Linked DNA regions of Homo sapiens: region 2 is linked to region 1. A link means that fine-mapping ties the variant in region 1 to the expression of a gene that starts in the linked region. Tissue or cell type: whole blood. Region 1 holds a variant in brackets; the other region holds the start of a gene. All regions are shown on one strand. Distances are between the middles of the regions.

Region 1 (8,000 bases):
GAGTGCAGTGGCGCGATCTTGGCTCACTGCAAGCTCATCCTCCCGGGATCATGCCATTCTCCTGCCTCAGCCTCCCTAGTAGCTGGGACTACAGGTGCCCGCCACCACGCCCAGCTAATTTTTTGTATTTTTAGTAGAGACGGGGTTTCACTGTGTTAGCCAGGATGGTCTCGATCTCCTGACCTCGTGATCCGCCTGCCTCGGCCTCCCAAAGTGCTGGGATTACAGGTGTGAGCCACCGCGCCCGGCTGAGAATAATTCTTAATATAAGTTATCTCAGTTCTTGGAATACATCAAAATACATGTTATCAAAATTATTTTTAACGAGGTCAGTTGACAGTTTGGATTGACTTTCCTTAAATTATGTTGGAAACAAAGAATTAGAAACCATGAGACTTACAAAAAGGCTTTCCTACTCAATTGTTGCCTTTACTCTTTCAACAGTGTACAAGTATTTTAAATTGTCCCTTGGCACTCTAAAGGGCTGTGCACCTTGGAGTAATAAACTACAGTTAGACTGGAGAGAGGTGAGGGTGGGTCTGTCTTTCATTAAGCAGGAGAGTCCTGATGAACAACCTGAGATGGGAAAGGAGAACAAGCTCCAGGGTGTTTTCAGACAAACGAGTTTTATGACAAAGCCCGTTTGAGGATTGATCTGAAAGTTGATTCCATAAGATGACTGGTGCCTGTCCACACCTGCTTGAAGACTGCTCCATAATTTGTCTCTGTCCTTTGAAGGACAGGATTTTTTATTTTTTCATTATTAATAACATTCATTATTGATAACAGTGCTAAAAAGAAGATTCTTACAACCACATCTCTTCAATTCTGCAGTCATTTCATTAGGTTAAAATTTCAGTGCTGGATCAAAGCATAATGAGTTTTTAAACATTTGATAGAAATTGGCATGCATATTTTTAAAAACTTGGTACGAATTGCCAAATTGCCCTTTAAAATGAGCATATTAATTTATCTTCTCACATGTAATGTTTGGGAATAAAGACCTGACTTTCCATCAATGTGTCCTTTGATATGAGAAAAAATAAATGCCACTTTATTCAGCTATTATTAAGCTGTTTGTTTCTTTTGAAAAATTTTGAATTTTTGCTGAACGTATACCATGCCTATACTTACAGAAGCAATTTTATGTTAATCTTAGTGGAGTTGAAAGGAAGCATATATTAATACTTTAATATAATTGCTTCTAGGTACTGAAGCCCAGTCTTCACTTTTGAAAGCAGTGGCTTTCTTCTTAGAAAGCATTGCCATGCATGACATTATAGCAGCAGAAAAGTGCTTTGGCACTGGGGCAGCAGGTAACAGAACAAGCCCACAAGAGGGAGAAAGGTACAACTACAGCAAATGCACCGTTGTGGTCCGGATTATGGAGTTTACCACGACTCTGCTAAACACCTCCCCGGAAGGATGGAAGGTAGGCTGCTCTGTTAATTTGAGGTCAGTTTTTGGTACTGGAAAACTACTTCAAAGGTTTCTGTTAGAAGGGGTTTTGGCTTTTAATAAAAATTTATCATTATTATTATTATTATTATTATTATTATATTTCATCCTCTCAACCCAGCTTTTCCTGACTTCAGGAAGAACCAGGAAGAGAAGGCTAGGTTTTGGCTTTTCTAAAACTTTGCATTGTCAGAAGTTATATGTCAAAATCAATTTGTCAATTTGTTTTAGTTGACAAAAACTGTATTTATGGTATACAGCATGATGTTTTGATATGCTCTGCCTTGTGGTATGGCTAAATCAAGCTAATTAACGTATCTGTTACCTCATATATGTAACATTTTTTCTGATGGGAACTTTTCAATCTATTTTCTTAGCAATTTGCAAAATTACAATGCATCGTTATTAACTACAGTCATCATGATGAATGATCTATTGAAAATCATGAAACTTTGCATGTCCTTCAGAGTTTCACTGTGTGAATAAAATATAAAATAGTTTTTTCTAATTGTTTTATTGGATGCTGTATTTTATGCTATGATCAAACATCTACCTTAGGAAACACACACTCGCAAATATTTATAGATGTATCCATGAGGCTTATTGTATAAACAAACTCCAGTCAGTTCATTCAGGGAATCTCTGCCAGGTGCCTGTGGCACGCCAGGCCCTGGGATGCAGCAGTGTCCTGAGTCAGGGGCGGGGAAACCCTGTCCATGGACACAACCTCACCTGCTGCCTGCTCCGTAGATAAAGCTAAATAGGAGCATGGCTGTGCGCCTCTGTCCACCTGTTGTCTGTGCTGCTTTCTTATCAGACGCGTAAGGAGTTGAAGCAGAGACTGTCTAGCCCACAAACCTCAAGTGTTTACTGTGCCCCCGTTTTACAGAGAAACTCTGCCCACCTCTCCCTTAGTCAGGCAGAAGTTCCCAACCTTGTGGGCCCTGCACTTTGGTGAAAATAGAAGTGCTGGCTGACGAAGTGTTTTTATCAAACAATCTGTTACAGCTCCTGAAGAAGGACTTGTGTAATACACACCTGATGAGAGTCCTGGTGCAGACGCTGTGTGAGCCCGCAAGCATAGGTTTCAACATCGGAGACGTCCAGGTTATGGCTCATCTTCCTGATGTTTGTGTGAATCTGATGAAAGCTCTAAAGATGTCCCCATACAAAGATATCCTAGAGACCCATCTGAGAGAGAAAATAACAGCACAGAGGTGGGTACTTGGGTCACAATCGGGGACATGTTGTCCTGGAATTTCAGGCCCTAGTATGTTGCCGTGCTCCTGCAGCTGCTCCTGCTTCCTCAGGGAAGGCTTATATCAGTGGGATGTTTGCTGCCAGTGACCTCAATAGTTGTTTAGAAAACACATTTAACTAGTGCCTTCCCTGTACCAAACTTAAGCAAACTTCAGACATGGTTAGCGCCATGTTTGATCTCCATGCTAGCTTAGTGCGTGTGGATCCTGTTAGATGTTGCCTCTGTTTGCTTCATAACAGTGCAAACATTTTTTTCAGTGTATCTTGATAATTTAACGAGATCAGAGCTCACCTAATTTACTGTTTTGTCACATGGCCAGCATTGAGGAGCTTTGTGCCGTCAACTTGTATGGCCCTGACGCGCAAGTGGACAGGAGCAGGCTGGCTGCTGTTGTGTCTGCCTGTAAACAGCTTCACAGAGCTGGGCTTCTGCATAATATATTACCGTCTCAGGTAACTATAACTTATTGTTTTTACATTTATTTTAGCTTTAGTATGATAATTAGTGTATTTATTTATATTATTTCTTAAAAGTCCTTTATGTATTGAGCATGCTGAAATGGGAATTATAGAAATACTTGCTCAAGACATGTAGATATTATGTATCTGTATATCTATGATATATCAATATAAATATGAAAGCAAATGTAAAAATTTATAAATATAAAATGAAAGTAAAATAAAGGACATTTAGGTATTTACAGAGCAGCTTTCTGAAAAACTTTAGGAACTGCTGTTGTGCCTTTGTGGCAAGACAACACAAATGAAGAATCTAGCATAGAAAGCAAGGTTGAGCCAGATACAGTGGCTCATACTTGTAATCCCAGCACTTTGGGAGGCTCAGATAGGAGGATTGCTTGAGGCCAGAAGTTTGAGACCGACCCAGGCAACATGGCAGGAATTCATCTCTACAAACAATTAAAAAACAACAACAACAAAAAAAAACATTGTCCAGGAGTGGGTGCCGCGGACCCGTAGTCCCAGCTACTCAGGAGGCTGAGGTGGGAGGATTGCTTGAGCTTGGAAGCCTGAGAATGCAGTGAGCCACGATTGTGTCACTGCACTCCAGCCTGGGCGACAGAGCAAGACCCTGTCTCACAATAGCAAGAACAACAAAAGCAAAGTTGAATTAAAATTTTTCTGAATATTGGAAGGTAGTTGTCAGTGCTATCTGAAGTGGGTTTTTTATTTAATGAGAGGAGTGAAGTTGTTTTTTTCTAAGAAATATCTTTTTGCTAGGCATTTCAGTGTTGGCTTCCTTTTAGTCCACAGATTTGCATCATTCTGTTGGCACAGAACTTCTTTCCCTGGTTTATAAAGGCATTGCCCCTGGAGATGAGAGACAGTGTCTGCCTTCTCTAGACCTCAGTTGTAAGCAGCTGGCCAGCGGACTTCTGGAGTTAGCCTTTGCTTTTGGAGGACTGGTAGGAAAAACGCCTCTGCATGCTGCACTCCCCTAATAATAGAAATACATATGTCACTTGCAGGTGTCTCTAGAAACTGTGGAATTTGGGTAGTAAGGTTTTAGCTGGACAAGTATTGTATGATTTGCATGAGCCAACTTTCTAAAAGATTATTTTCTCAATAGTTAAAAAAAAAAAGAACGGAATAGAACAACATTCTTTTTAAATAGAGGTTTTGTCTATCCCACTTTGTTTCCAAAAGGAATTAGCTAGAGAACGTTTTGTGACTATGAAGCTGAGTCATGTTGACATGTGGCCTCTTCTCCTCTCCTTGGTGGTCCTTCACATGGATGATTGGGAGGGCCTCTGAAGGATAATCCCAGAGGAACCAGAGTCTCCAAAAAAATATTCTCATG[G/T]CTCTTTGAACCATGCAGGGCTGGCCTTAAATAGTCCCTGCTGTAGCTGAAATCTGCAGCCAGCCCTCTGTGTTCACTCCATCCCAACTTTCTTTCTTCTGTAGCAGAAACCCCTTTTTCACCCCTTTGTCCGATTAATGTAAACAATTACATATTTAAATTGTCTAAAAATACTCACCCTTAATAGACTATCCTCAAAGCAACAACACTGGGGTAGGCAGATGGCTTGAGCCCAGGAGTTTGAGACCATCCTGGACAACATAGCGAGACCCTGTTTCTACAAAAAAATTTAAAAAATTAGCCAGGTATGGTGGCACATGCTTGTAGTCCCAGCTACACAAGAGGCTGAGGTGGGAAGATCGCTTGAGCCCAGGAAGTCAAGGCTGTAGTGAGTCATGATCATGCCACTGCACTCCAGCCTGGGCAACAGAGTGACACCCTGTCTTTAAAAAACAACAAGGCTGGGCAGGGTGACTTATTGCCTGTAATCCTAGCACTTTGAGAGGCCAAGGCGGGTGAATTGCTTGAGGTCAGGAGTTCGAGACCAGCCTGAACTACATGGTGAAATGCTGTCTCTACTAAAAATACAAAAATTAGCCAGGTGTGGTAGAACGCACTTGTAATTCCAGATACTCGGGGGTGCTGAGGCCGGAGAATTGCTTGAACCTAGGAGGTGGAGGTTTGCAGTGAGCCGAGATCGTGCCACTGTACTCCAGCCTGGGCAACAGAGCGAGACCCTGTCTCAAAAAATAAAACACAACAACAAGACTTTTGGACATTTGGAAGAAATATGGGTCAAGGAAGATTTCTTTCCCAAAATGAAACCTAGAAAATGGAGGCTAGTTGAAATATATACAATTTCAGCTTGAATCCAGGCTTCACATATCAGGCTCTTTTTAGACCTGTGTCATTTTCCAATTTCAAAGTTATCAGTTGCCCAAGGGTCTTTCTGTGCCATGCAAAGATGTGCCCCAGTTATGGTACTTCTCCTTTCTTTTTCCCAGTGTGAGCGCCTTGTGAGTCTTCTCCTGAACCCAGCGGTGCTGTCCACGGCGTCCTTGGGCAGCTCACAGGGCAGCGTCATCCACTTCTCCCATGGGGAGTATTTCTATAGCTTGTTCTCAGAAACGATCAACACGGAATTATTGAAAAATCTGGATCTTGCTGTATTGGAGCTCATGCAGTCTTCAGTGGATAATACCAAAATGGTAACAAAGTTTCCCTTTAAATAAACTGTTTTTTTTGTTTGTTTGTTTGTTTGAGACAGAGTCTTGCACTTTCGCCCAGGCTGGAGTGCAGTGGCACGATCTCTGCTGACTGCAACCTCTGCATCCCAGATTGAAGCGATTCTCCTGCCTCAGCCTCCCGAGTAGCTGGGATTACAGGCACCCGCCACCACACCTAGCTAATTTTTTGTATTTTTAGTAGAGACGGAGTTTCACTATGTTGGCCAGGCTGGTCTTGAACTCCTGACCTCGTGATCCGCCCAGTTTGGCCTCCCGAAGTGCTGGGATTACAGGCGTGAGCCACTGCACCCGGTCAATATTTTCTTATATAATCCTTATAAAAGGGTTGCCATATTCCTGAAATATTTCATTAAAGTATGACAAGACTTTTTCCTATAAGGTTGAAAGCTCTTGCTTTTAACAAACTCAGAAAAACCCAAAACATACCCCTTATCAATAGTTAATGAATATTAGGCCAGGCATGGTGGCTCATGCCTGTAATCCCAGCACTTTGGGAGGTGGAGGTGAGCGGATCATCAGAGGTCAGGAATTCAAGCCCAGCCTGGCGAACATGGCAAAACCTTGTTTCTACTAAAAATACAAAAAATTAGCCAGGCATGGTGGTGTGTGCCTGTAATCCCAGCTACTCAGGAGGCTGAGGCAGGAGAATTTCTTGAACCTGAGAGGCGGAGGTTGCAGTGAGCTGAGATCATGCCCACTGCACTCCAGCCTGAGTAATGAAGCGAGACTCTGTCTTAAAAAAGTAAGAAATAGCTAATGAGTGTTATTGGATGTTAAAACATTGATTGTTTTTTCTATTCCCTTATGCTTTGCAAATTTCTAAGCCTAAATATTATAAGGCACAGCTATGCAGGGTATTGACATTTGCCAAGATGTGGCTTTGGAGCTTACAAACCCGTCCTGGGGCCCAGAGCTGGCTTTGCATTCATACCAGCTGCAGGCAGGTCTCTGCACCCCGGTAGACCTCTCTGTTCTCAGAGTTCTCTTGTGGCCTCGATGCTGAGTTATCATTTCTGGCATGTTCCTGCTGTGTCCCCCTTTCTCCCTGGAGATCAGTATTTAATATATAGTTGACTTTCGTTTGCTAAACCTCTGGGATTTTGAAATTTAACTTGTTCTGTGGACAGAAACTGTTAACTGTTGATATGACCATTTTAAGGGAGAGTACATGATGTCCTAAGTTGAGCTTTTATTGCAAACAGTGCTTTTCTGTTGTAGGGGAATCTTTTGTGGTAGATTGCAGTAGGAATTTGTATTCTTTAAAATTAGAAATAAAATCGTAGTAGATGACACTCAGATTTAACATTCTGATTTCTTAAACTATGACCTCTGATGGAAATGATAGAAAAAACATACGCCTTTGACCTCTATTCCTTCCCTAAATTCCTCTAAAGTAACAGAATGAGATTTTTAAAACACCTCTACAATCTCAAAGGACACAGAGAAAAGGACTTCCAAGAGTGACAAGAGTTGTAAATCAAAAGGACAGGTGTGGCAGACTGCATGCAGAGTTTGAGATAGCAGCGAGGTGATGCAGCCTTCGGAAGTTGGGGTCCACACGTGCTGAGCCCCAGCAGGGCAGACATGCGAGCAGGGGTGAGCAGAGGCTGAGAAGAGAGGATTGGGCAAAGGCCAGCTCTCCCCTGCAGGGCAGCCTCCTGTCTCTGCTGCTGGGGGTCTGATCCTCCCCACTTGAGGAGAAGGCAGGAGGCAGTGACTCCCTGGAGAGGATAGAGACCTCCAGACTGGGGGCTCTGGCATGGCTGAATATGTGGATACCATCAGGAAAAGAGGAAAGTTAAGTACTAACCTACCTAAATTCTAGACTTTCAGGCTGTCTGCCCTTTCCCTCTGAATACTTTCAGTTCAGCATCTGCCCTTGGCAGGGCACCAGAATATCCTGACAAGCCCTAAGAGAAAATAAAGATGCAGGCATCATAGCCAGCTGGGTCAGTGACAGTGATCCTCCCCACCAGCGAGCCCTGCACGCTGCACAGCGCTTCCAGGCAGGTGATACCTGTGAGCCGGCAGCCCAGGGGCTCAGGCACCTGAGGAAAGGGACGCCAGAGGGCGTAGCGGGACACAGGCAACTGTGGCAAGGCCTGTTCAGTGAGATGGAAATGTAAGCTGGAGAAAAAAAACTGAAAGATGAGAGACAAAACTGTGAAATAAGAATTGCTATGGAGAATGAACATCAGAGAACAAAAAAGGCTCTT
Region 2 (8,530 bases), 630 kb after region 1:
AATGAGACTATCAAGGCCTTAAACTGGAACCATGAGGTACTCCTACCAAGATAACTATGAGAATTTCCTGCCATCACTGAAAAACTTGAAAATGAGCCTTTTTCCTATTTCTTGTTCAAGAAGCTGAAAGACAGCAATTCCAGGGAAATCTAGAGACAAAGCAGTAGAGGATGTACAATATCTTTGTCCTCATATGATTTCTTTAATTATCATGGTGTTTCATTATTAATTGCTTTCATTATCACCAACATTTATTGAGTGTTTATATGCTCGGTATATCATCGCATGCATTCTCATAATTTAATCCTCACATCAACCCAGCAATATAGGTATTAACCCCATTTTATAAAGAAACGACAACTCAATGTTAGGTATATTGCCCTATTCAGAGAACTTGAACCCAGGAGACAGTGGTTGCAGTGAGCCGAGATCGGGCCACTGCACTCCAGCCTGGGTGGCTGAGCAAGACTCCATCTCAAAAAAAAAAAAAGAAAATCTCAAAAGGCAAGCTGCTGCCCAAGAACAGGAGTATATGTGGTCGTCCTTGGCTACTTCATAAGGAAAGGGAGAACACAAGGCACAAAGGGAAGAATCACAGCATGTTAAGGGATAGTGAGGGGCTAGGGCAGGAGAAACTCATGGAGGAGAGGGGAGTGAGGAAAGAACTAAGATACCCCAGCCTTTGAGCAACTGACTGCCCTAATCTCCCTGGGACTTAAATACCACATATCTATATATGTGATATATAGGATATATCTATATATCCTAACATCAGTTAAGAGGCAAACAACTTTCTCACTTCTCATAGGTTCGACTTTCTGAATCACCATGGGTTTCCTCCTCTTCCTCTTTCAATTGCAGTTGCCTAAATCTCACCTTCCATTTGTAGTCTGTCAACCCAGTCCTTTCTATTCTATTCCTAATTCCACCACCTTAGTCCATAACCACACCACCTTTCATCTTAAGAGTCGTGATATATCTGTGTGGCTTGTCCAAAACTGCAAAATCATTCAGCTGTACTGCTGAGGCAGATATCCGAGTCTTCGGACTAGGGTATTTCCTCCTGTTTCTTCACACCTGGAATACTTGCAAATCTTCTAAACTAGTTCTCCTTTCATTAATTCATCAGATATCTAGTACATACAAGGGATATGACAGGTATTCTGGGGAATATGGGCTGAAGAAATAGTCCCTAATCTTAAATGTCTAGAATATAAGGGAATAAAGGTGTAGACACAAATAAACCTAATGTAAGACATGGAATAGTAAGAGTTATTTACATAAAATTCCACAGACTACAGAAGAAAGTTCATTTACAGCTGGGATAATTTGGGAGGTGAAATTTGGGGTGGGCCTCAATGGATGACTAAGATTCCAATCAGCAGAAATGGGAGAACTGGCATTATTCCAAACCAAGAACATACAGAAGAAAGTTCATTTATAGCTGGGATAATTTGGGAGAAGGTGGGATTTGAAGTAGGCCTCAATGGATGATTAAGATTTCATGGCCGGGCGCAGTGGCTCACGCCTGTAATCCCAGCACTTTGGGAGGCCGAGGCGGGCGGATCACGACGTCAGGAGATCGAGACCATCCTGGCTAACACGGTGAAACCCTGTCTCTAATAAAAATTTAAAAAAAATTAGCCCGGTGTGGAGGCTGGCGCCTGTACCGAGATCGCGCCACTGCACTCCAGCCTGGGCGACAGAGCGAGACTGCGTCTCAAAAAAAAAAGGTTTCAATCAGCAGAAATGGGAGAACTGGCATTATTCCAAACCAAGAACATACGCAATTACCACCAAGGGGCAAGCAAGTACAGTGACGCAGTAGTCTAGTTTACCTATAAGATAAATAATGAGCAAAGCTGTAAAGGAATAAGACACAGATATTATGGAGGCTGTGAATAACAGGCTGAGAGCCTGAACAAAAGCAAGGTCTGGGGCAGACTACCTGGATACAAATCCTAGCTTCTTCCCTTAACTGCTGTGTGACCTTAGGCAAATTACTTAGCCTCTCTGCTGAGCCTCAGTTTCCTCATCCATAAAATGAGACTAATGGTATCTACCTCACAGGACTGTTAAAATAATTAAATTAGTTAATACATATAAAGCACTAAACACAGGATAAGTTCTGCAGTAAATTATGATGTAGCCAATAAGAAGTAAAATGAGATTTAGATAGAGGACTAACAATATAATCAAAGTAGTGCCTAAGGGAAAGTCACCTCTGAAGATGGAATGGGAGCATGCTAGCCGGCACTACACATCAACACTCCAACCATTAAGTACTTTTGAGACTGACCGAGGGAGACAGAAACAAAAAATAAATTCCTGGGAAATACTGTGGAAGCCAGCCTCCAAGGTGGCCCCTGTGATCCCCACCTCCTGGGGACCCTCTATAGTCTCCTCATACATTGTACCGGGTTGGTCCATGTAATGAATAGACAGGAGATGGGATGTCACTTCTGAGTTTAGGCTATAAAAGACACGGGGACCGATATCTTGTTGCTCTCTCTCTTGCTCTTGGGAAAGCCAGGACCCTGTTGTGAGCTGCCCTATGCAGCTGTCAAGAAACAACCACGTGAGTGAGCTTGGAACTGGATTCTCCAGCTCCAACGACCCTTTATTTGACTGCAGCCTTGTGGGAGATCCTGAACTACAACCACTTAGTTGAGCCGTTCTCAGATTCCTGAGTCTCAGAAACTCTATGATATAATAAACATTTGTTATGAACTGCTTCAGTTTTCAGCAACGTATTACACAATAGACAACTGTACGACTACTAAAAAAAATTGAGTAAAAAAAAAGAGTCTTGAAAAATGACAAGATGAAGAGACCAGAAGTGAACGTCAATTCAAAAATACTAAGATTTCTAAGTCAAGAGAAACTGTTAGGGCCTGGAGGACTAAGGGTGAGATGATGATTATGTGATGCACTAAGTTTGAGCTCTAGGGAAAGATCTAATATAGATCTGAAAGTCATCTATATAGTTAACTTCAATGTATGACATTGTCCAAAGCAAATATGGAACATGTGAAAAAGCACAAGGTCAAAAATTAGAACATGGCACGAACACAGTAAAGAGAAGAAAATGAGCTGTTGCAAGACAGGAAAACAATCATGGATGTTCCAAAAGAAATAAAAGCAGGTGGTGAATGTGTCAAACGCTCCAATGATCAAGTAAACAACTTACACTGGATTTAGCAAATTTATATATTTCCTTGATTTTTTTCACACATTAATGCTTCAGAAATCAGACTGTATCTTATAATCAAGAGGTGCCTGAAATGAATTTCTTTATTCCCTAAAGCCAGTCACAAAACTGATAGTGTGGGCTGATAATCAATGGTATTTGAGAAGCGAGAAAGCATGGTAGTGGTAAAGAAGTTGAACCAGTATATGTGGTCTATTTTTTCCAGGAAGTTTTCAAGTAAAGGCAAGAGTCAAGAAAGGAGGTCCTGTGTTTGCTTTTTAAAAACCGTTTTACTATGAGACAAACGTATTTGAAAGCAAGGAAGTTAGAAGAAACTTTAAAACGATAAAGGACACATGCCATGACAAGCACAATTAGCAGAACAAAAAAGGATGCACTCGCGGATACAGGTGCAATCAAACACCATTCAAGCAACGATTCCTAGGCACCCGCTCCCGTTCTGGAACCCGAGGCAGCGCGGTGCCCACGGATTGGGCAGTCAGCCGCACAGTCCCCTCCGAGTGCGGCAGGAAGAGAGACAGAGTTGACAGTGGATTATCCGCGGAGACGGGTAAAACCACGCCAGGATTCCCTGCGGTTTGGTACATTACACCAGAATCAAAAAGAGACAAGAGTAAGGCCAAGTACCCCCGAGGCGGACATATGCTCCCGCCCGCTGCGTCCCTCGGCGGTCCCACCCCTCGCTTTCCGTACCGCCGCTGAGGGCCCGGCCCGCACGCCTGGACCGGAGCCGGACCTGGGGGCGGTACCCCACTGCGCGGGCTTGCTCCACGCGCGCAGACGGGACCCGCCACCACCTAGCCCTTCACCCCCAACGCCCACCCTCTCTCACCCCAGCACAACGGGGCCAGCCCCGCGCCGGCCCGCCGCTTCCCCGCAACGCGGGAAACGGCGCGGCGCCCACTCCCGCCCCAGAGCCTACCTTAGAGCCCCGAGCGCGGCTGCCGCGGGGCATCTCCGGGAGCGCCGCCTGAGCGCACCGCCTCCTCAGCGCGCCGCCGTCCCACCTCGGCGCGCCGCACCGCGCCCTGCCATTGGCGGGCGCTCGGGCGCAGGGCGGGGCTTCGGCGGGGGGCAGGGCTTCTCCGGCCCCGGCGCTCCAGGGCCTCCCGGATGGCCTAGTCGGGCCCGGAGCCCGGAAGGAGTGCCCCGCGGAGAGTCGAGCTTCCTTCCCCGGGGCTGGGGGTTCCGCGGAGCTCGCTCTGGGCTGTGGCGTTGCTCGCCCGCGAGCTCCTGGGGAGTTCGGGGGAGCTGCTGGGCTGGTGCCTGGAGCGGGGGCCGCCTCCAAGTATTGTCTTTCGAATTAAGTTACTGTCGTCTGTGTTGTCAGGCAACAACTGACCTTAAATAAAAATGAAAACCAGAAGTAGGCTACACATGCAATAGGCTACACATGCAATAATGGATACTTAAGGAATGGGAGTGGCTGCTGGTGACTGGAGCAGAGAGGGTGTGGTTTCCCCATGTTTCGGGGCCGGGGGGAAGGAGTAAAGTCTGTGTTCAGAGCCCAGACGCCATGTCGGTCATCACATCACCGGGAGAACTCGTGGAGCCTGAGGAAAGGCTACGGGGTGCCAGAGTCTGAAGGGGCGGAAGATTGCATTCCTATCACGTTCGCCGTGGCGCACAGGGGCTCCGCTGGGGCCGCCGCTCCCGCAGGAGAAGTGGGCCTGAGACGGTGCGGCGTCGACCATAGCCGGCCCAGCAGAAGCCGGGGAAGGCCACAAGTGTAACTGGGTCCGAGTACTGTGAAGAAGGCGCCTCCCATGGAGAAAGCTACCGGGTAGTTTAACAAGGTGGAAAAGCGTTGGCCTGGGGAGGAGGAAAGGATGCTCAGAAAGTTGCCTCAAAAGGACGCAGAAGTGGAGGTGAATCTTCTGTTTCAGAGGCATTTTTTTGTGCCTCTGTGAGAATGCATTGCTTCCTGGTTGATCCATCTTCAGGTTTTCTCTCCGTCCTAGTCCCTGTTCTGCCACCATTCTGTGTTTGAATCTGGTACCTAAAGCCGCAGATACTTGGTTCATAGTAGATGTCCACTCTGCAGTGGCTGAAAACACGGAAGAAAAACCATCTTTGCCTGGGAAGGACATTATTGCTAGTGCCATTACTGTCAACAGTTGGAACAAGATAAACGGCATGCCCAATCTAGTTGAGGATTTTGGACACCGGGCCTCCCACTGGGACTCCGCCGAGAAACCAGGTCTGCCATTGCCACCTCCGCCGGGCCTTGCTGTCTTAGCACAGTAAGTGCACCCGACCGCGCCCGGAGTCCCCCTTTCACTCCCACAACCAGGCCTGTGGTGAGGCTCCCGCTTGTCATCTCCACCAGGAGGTGCTGTCCTGCCGAAATGTTGGGGTTTTTCTCCAAACTTCCTCCTGTTCAGAATTCGCCATCTCAGTAGTGGCATGGACATCCACCTGGCCACAGCTCACGCAGAAACCTAGGAATTTTTGTGAACACGTTTGTGTGTCTTACTAATGTGTCCACTCTCCACTACCACTGTTTCCCAGGCCACTAGTATCTTTTGCCCAGACTGCTAGTAGCTCTTAACCCATGTCCCCTAATCCACTCTTGCCCCTCACACAGCACACACATACAATCCATTCTCAACACAGACACCACAGTGAGGTTTATGCTGTCTATACTGGCCTTCCCTTTCGGTGGTCAAACGTGCCTAGCTCCTGCAGCCTTGGGGTCTAATAAGCATTTGCTCTTCCTTTTGCCTAAAAGGCTCTGGCCTCCCTCTGCCATGCCATTTCCTATGCGCCTGTCAAACCTGAACCTGGTGGCCAGCTTCCCTAAACTAGCAAGCCTGAACCTCCCTGCTCTTCCATGTCCGCAGGACCTCATGCTCTGTTGAAGATGTTATAACAATTAGAATCTAAATAATTACGAAAGTTATTTGTTTACCATGTGGTTCCACCTCCATGCTGTAAGGTAATACCATTTCTATCTTCTCCGTTTTTGTATCTCTATCAGTTAGCACAGCGTCTTCCATATACAAAGTACTCAGTTATTTACTATGGATGAACTGCTAATTGTGAAACAGAAATGACTTGCCAGAGGCTGCACAGCTAGTAACTGTTCAGGATTAGAACTCATATGTGATACCAAGGTCGATGCATTCTCCACTACACCAATCAGATCATAGTAGAATCATGAGGAATTTTTCACTTGAACATATGAACTCAGCAAAAGGGAACTGTTGATAATAAAGATGAGCCCCTGCAGAAAGGGTCTCTTAAGTCCTCTCCAGTCTTGCCTCATTTCCTCCTCAGCAAACACTCAATGGCAAACATCAAGACAAACCAGAAAGTCCTTCTTTTAACTTTTTTCTCATCAAACTTTTTGGCCTAGTTGCTGTTCTGCAGATATCTGTGGTCTTCACTCTGCTTACAGCCATCCTAAGGATTCCATGGAGATCCATGGAGTCTGGGGAGGGTGTGACTCACAGGAGGGTCTCTGCTGCACCTTCAGGGCAGCTCTCTTCCATCTGTCTTATATATGGGGCAAGATTGTATTTAAAGAAAGATCTAATATGGGGAGAAATGTTTAGAATCTACTCATCCATATTCTTTTTTAGTCTGGTAGATGACAGTGCTCTAGGCTATAAATGAATCCAAGATTTAAACGTGAAAAAATGTCAAGGTATTAGAATAAAACATGACCAGATTCCTTTATAATCTTAGAGTGGGGGAAAGGGGAGAAAGTCTTTCCAACTATGACTCAAAATGTCCTAGTCGTAATAGGAAAGATTGATCGATTCAACTACATAAAAACCCTAATTTATGCATGGCAAAAAAAACACAGTAGGCAAAGACAAATGGCAAAATTAAAGAATAGTTCATATTGATGTTATATAGAAACAGCCCCCTAAAGTATAAATTACTCTTGGAGGAGTAAGCAAGAGTATTCCTTGGGGGAAACCCAGTAGAAAATGGGCAAAGGACAAGGGCAGTTCACAGAGAAAGGAACACAAATGGCTTTTATACATATGAAAAATGTACTGTCTCACTCATGACAAGAGAAATGCAAATTTAAACTGCACACCTACCATATTGGCTAAAATCTAAGTCCTGGACAACACATATTGGGGTAAGGGCCCTCTAATGTATTGCTAACAAAAGTACAAAATTATGCAACTCCTATCAAATATGCTTCAAAATTATAAGTGTATTTACTCTTTAAGCTAGCAGTCCTACTTCTGGAAACTAATCCTACACATACACCTGCACACATATTGTCTTAGTCTGTTTTGTGCTGCTATAACAGAATATCTGAGACTGGGTAGTTTACAAAGAACAGATACTTACTTTCTCACTCTGAGAAATCTGAGATCAAGGAGCTGGCATTTGGTGTCTGGTGTGGGCCTTCCTGCTGCATCTTCACATGGCAGAAGGCAGAAGGGCAAGAAAGCAAGCTAGCTGAATGCTGCGTGAAGCCTCTTATAAGGGCCTTAATCCTATTAGTGATGGAGGAGCCTTCATGGCCTATTTGGCAACACCTGAATTTTAGAGGATACACATATGAAATGATAACACATGTGAAATGATATGTATGTAAGGGTATTTTTTGCAGCATAGTTTGCAATAGCAAAAGACTAGAAAAAATTGATATATTTGTTTACTTGGAGAGTAAGGAGACTGTTAAATGTGCCATGGTAATACCTTCATAATGATCTCCAGCTTTACTAAATGAAAAAAACAATTGACAGAATATGATTCATAGTGTGCTGCCTCTCTAGTGCAAGAAAACAGGAAAAGACCATATATTGCTTATATCTGCTTGAAGAAATGCTACATCGAAATAGATGTATAGGAAATAAAAGGGGTTACCTGGTGGAGGGGAGGAACCAAGTGATTGGGATGAGGGGAGGAGGACTTCTCCATCTCTACTTTTTTATGTTGTTTTGTATACCTATTTTTAAAACAGATTGAAAAATTAAGAAAAATGTGTACTTTGTTCTAGAGTGATGATGGTTGTACAACTGTGAATATTGTAACAAATCACTGAATGGTACACTTTAAAGGGTGATTTTATGGTATTTGAATTATATTTCAATAAAATAATTATTTTAAAAATGTTTGGTGAGGGGCTGGTAGCATCAGCAGCATCTGAGAAATTGTCAGAAATGCAAATTCTTGGACTCCATACTAGACCAATTGAATCAGAAACCTGGTGGACAAGGCCTGGCAATCTGTTTTGACAAGCCCTTCAACTGACTCTGATGCATGCTCACCTGTGAGAAGCACTGGACTGGATGCAATTGCACGGAGTAACAGGCTGTTGCACAGTGGTCTCCCACAAAACATCCGACT

Evidence for each region. PIP is the estimated chance that this variant, and not a neighbour inherited with it, causes the effect.
Region 2: it holds the start of SPIDR, and the variant in region 1 is fine-mapped to the expression of SPIDR in whole blood (TOPMed, PIP 0.94).

The regions. Positions count from the first base shown.
Region 1 is chr8:47,883,689-47,891,688 of GRCh38, reverse strand. It overlaps PRKDC (protein kinase, DNA-activated, catalytic subunit), which reads left to right. Exons shown (of 86, transcript NM_006904.7): 32 at 1,209-1,432; 33 at 2,467-2,675; 34 at 3,039-3,171; 35 at 3,984-4,142; 36 at 5,542-5,745. Among named protein-coding and RNA genes, the nearest start is that of PRKDC, 72 kb to the left of the region's middle. The variant G/T (reference allele first, on the strand shown) is at 4,538.
Region 2 is chr8:47,256,595-47,265,124 of GRCh38, reverse strand. SPIDR (scaffold protein involved in DNA repair) reads right to left here and starts at 4,187. Exons shown (of 20, transcript NM_001080394.4): 1 at 4,134-4,187. The coding sequence starts at 4,166. RefSeq lists a silencer at 3,924-4,473.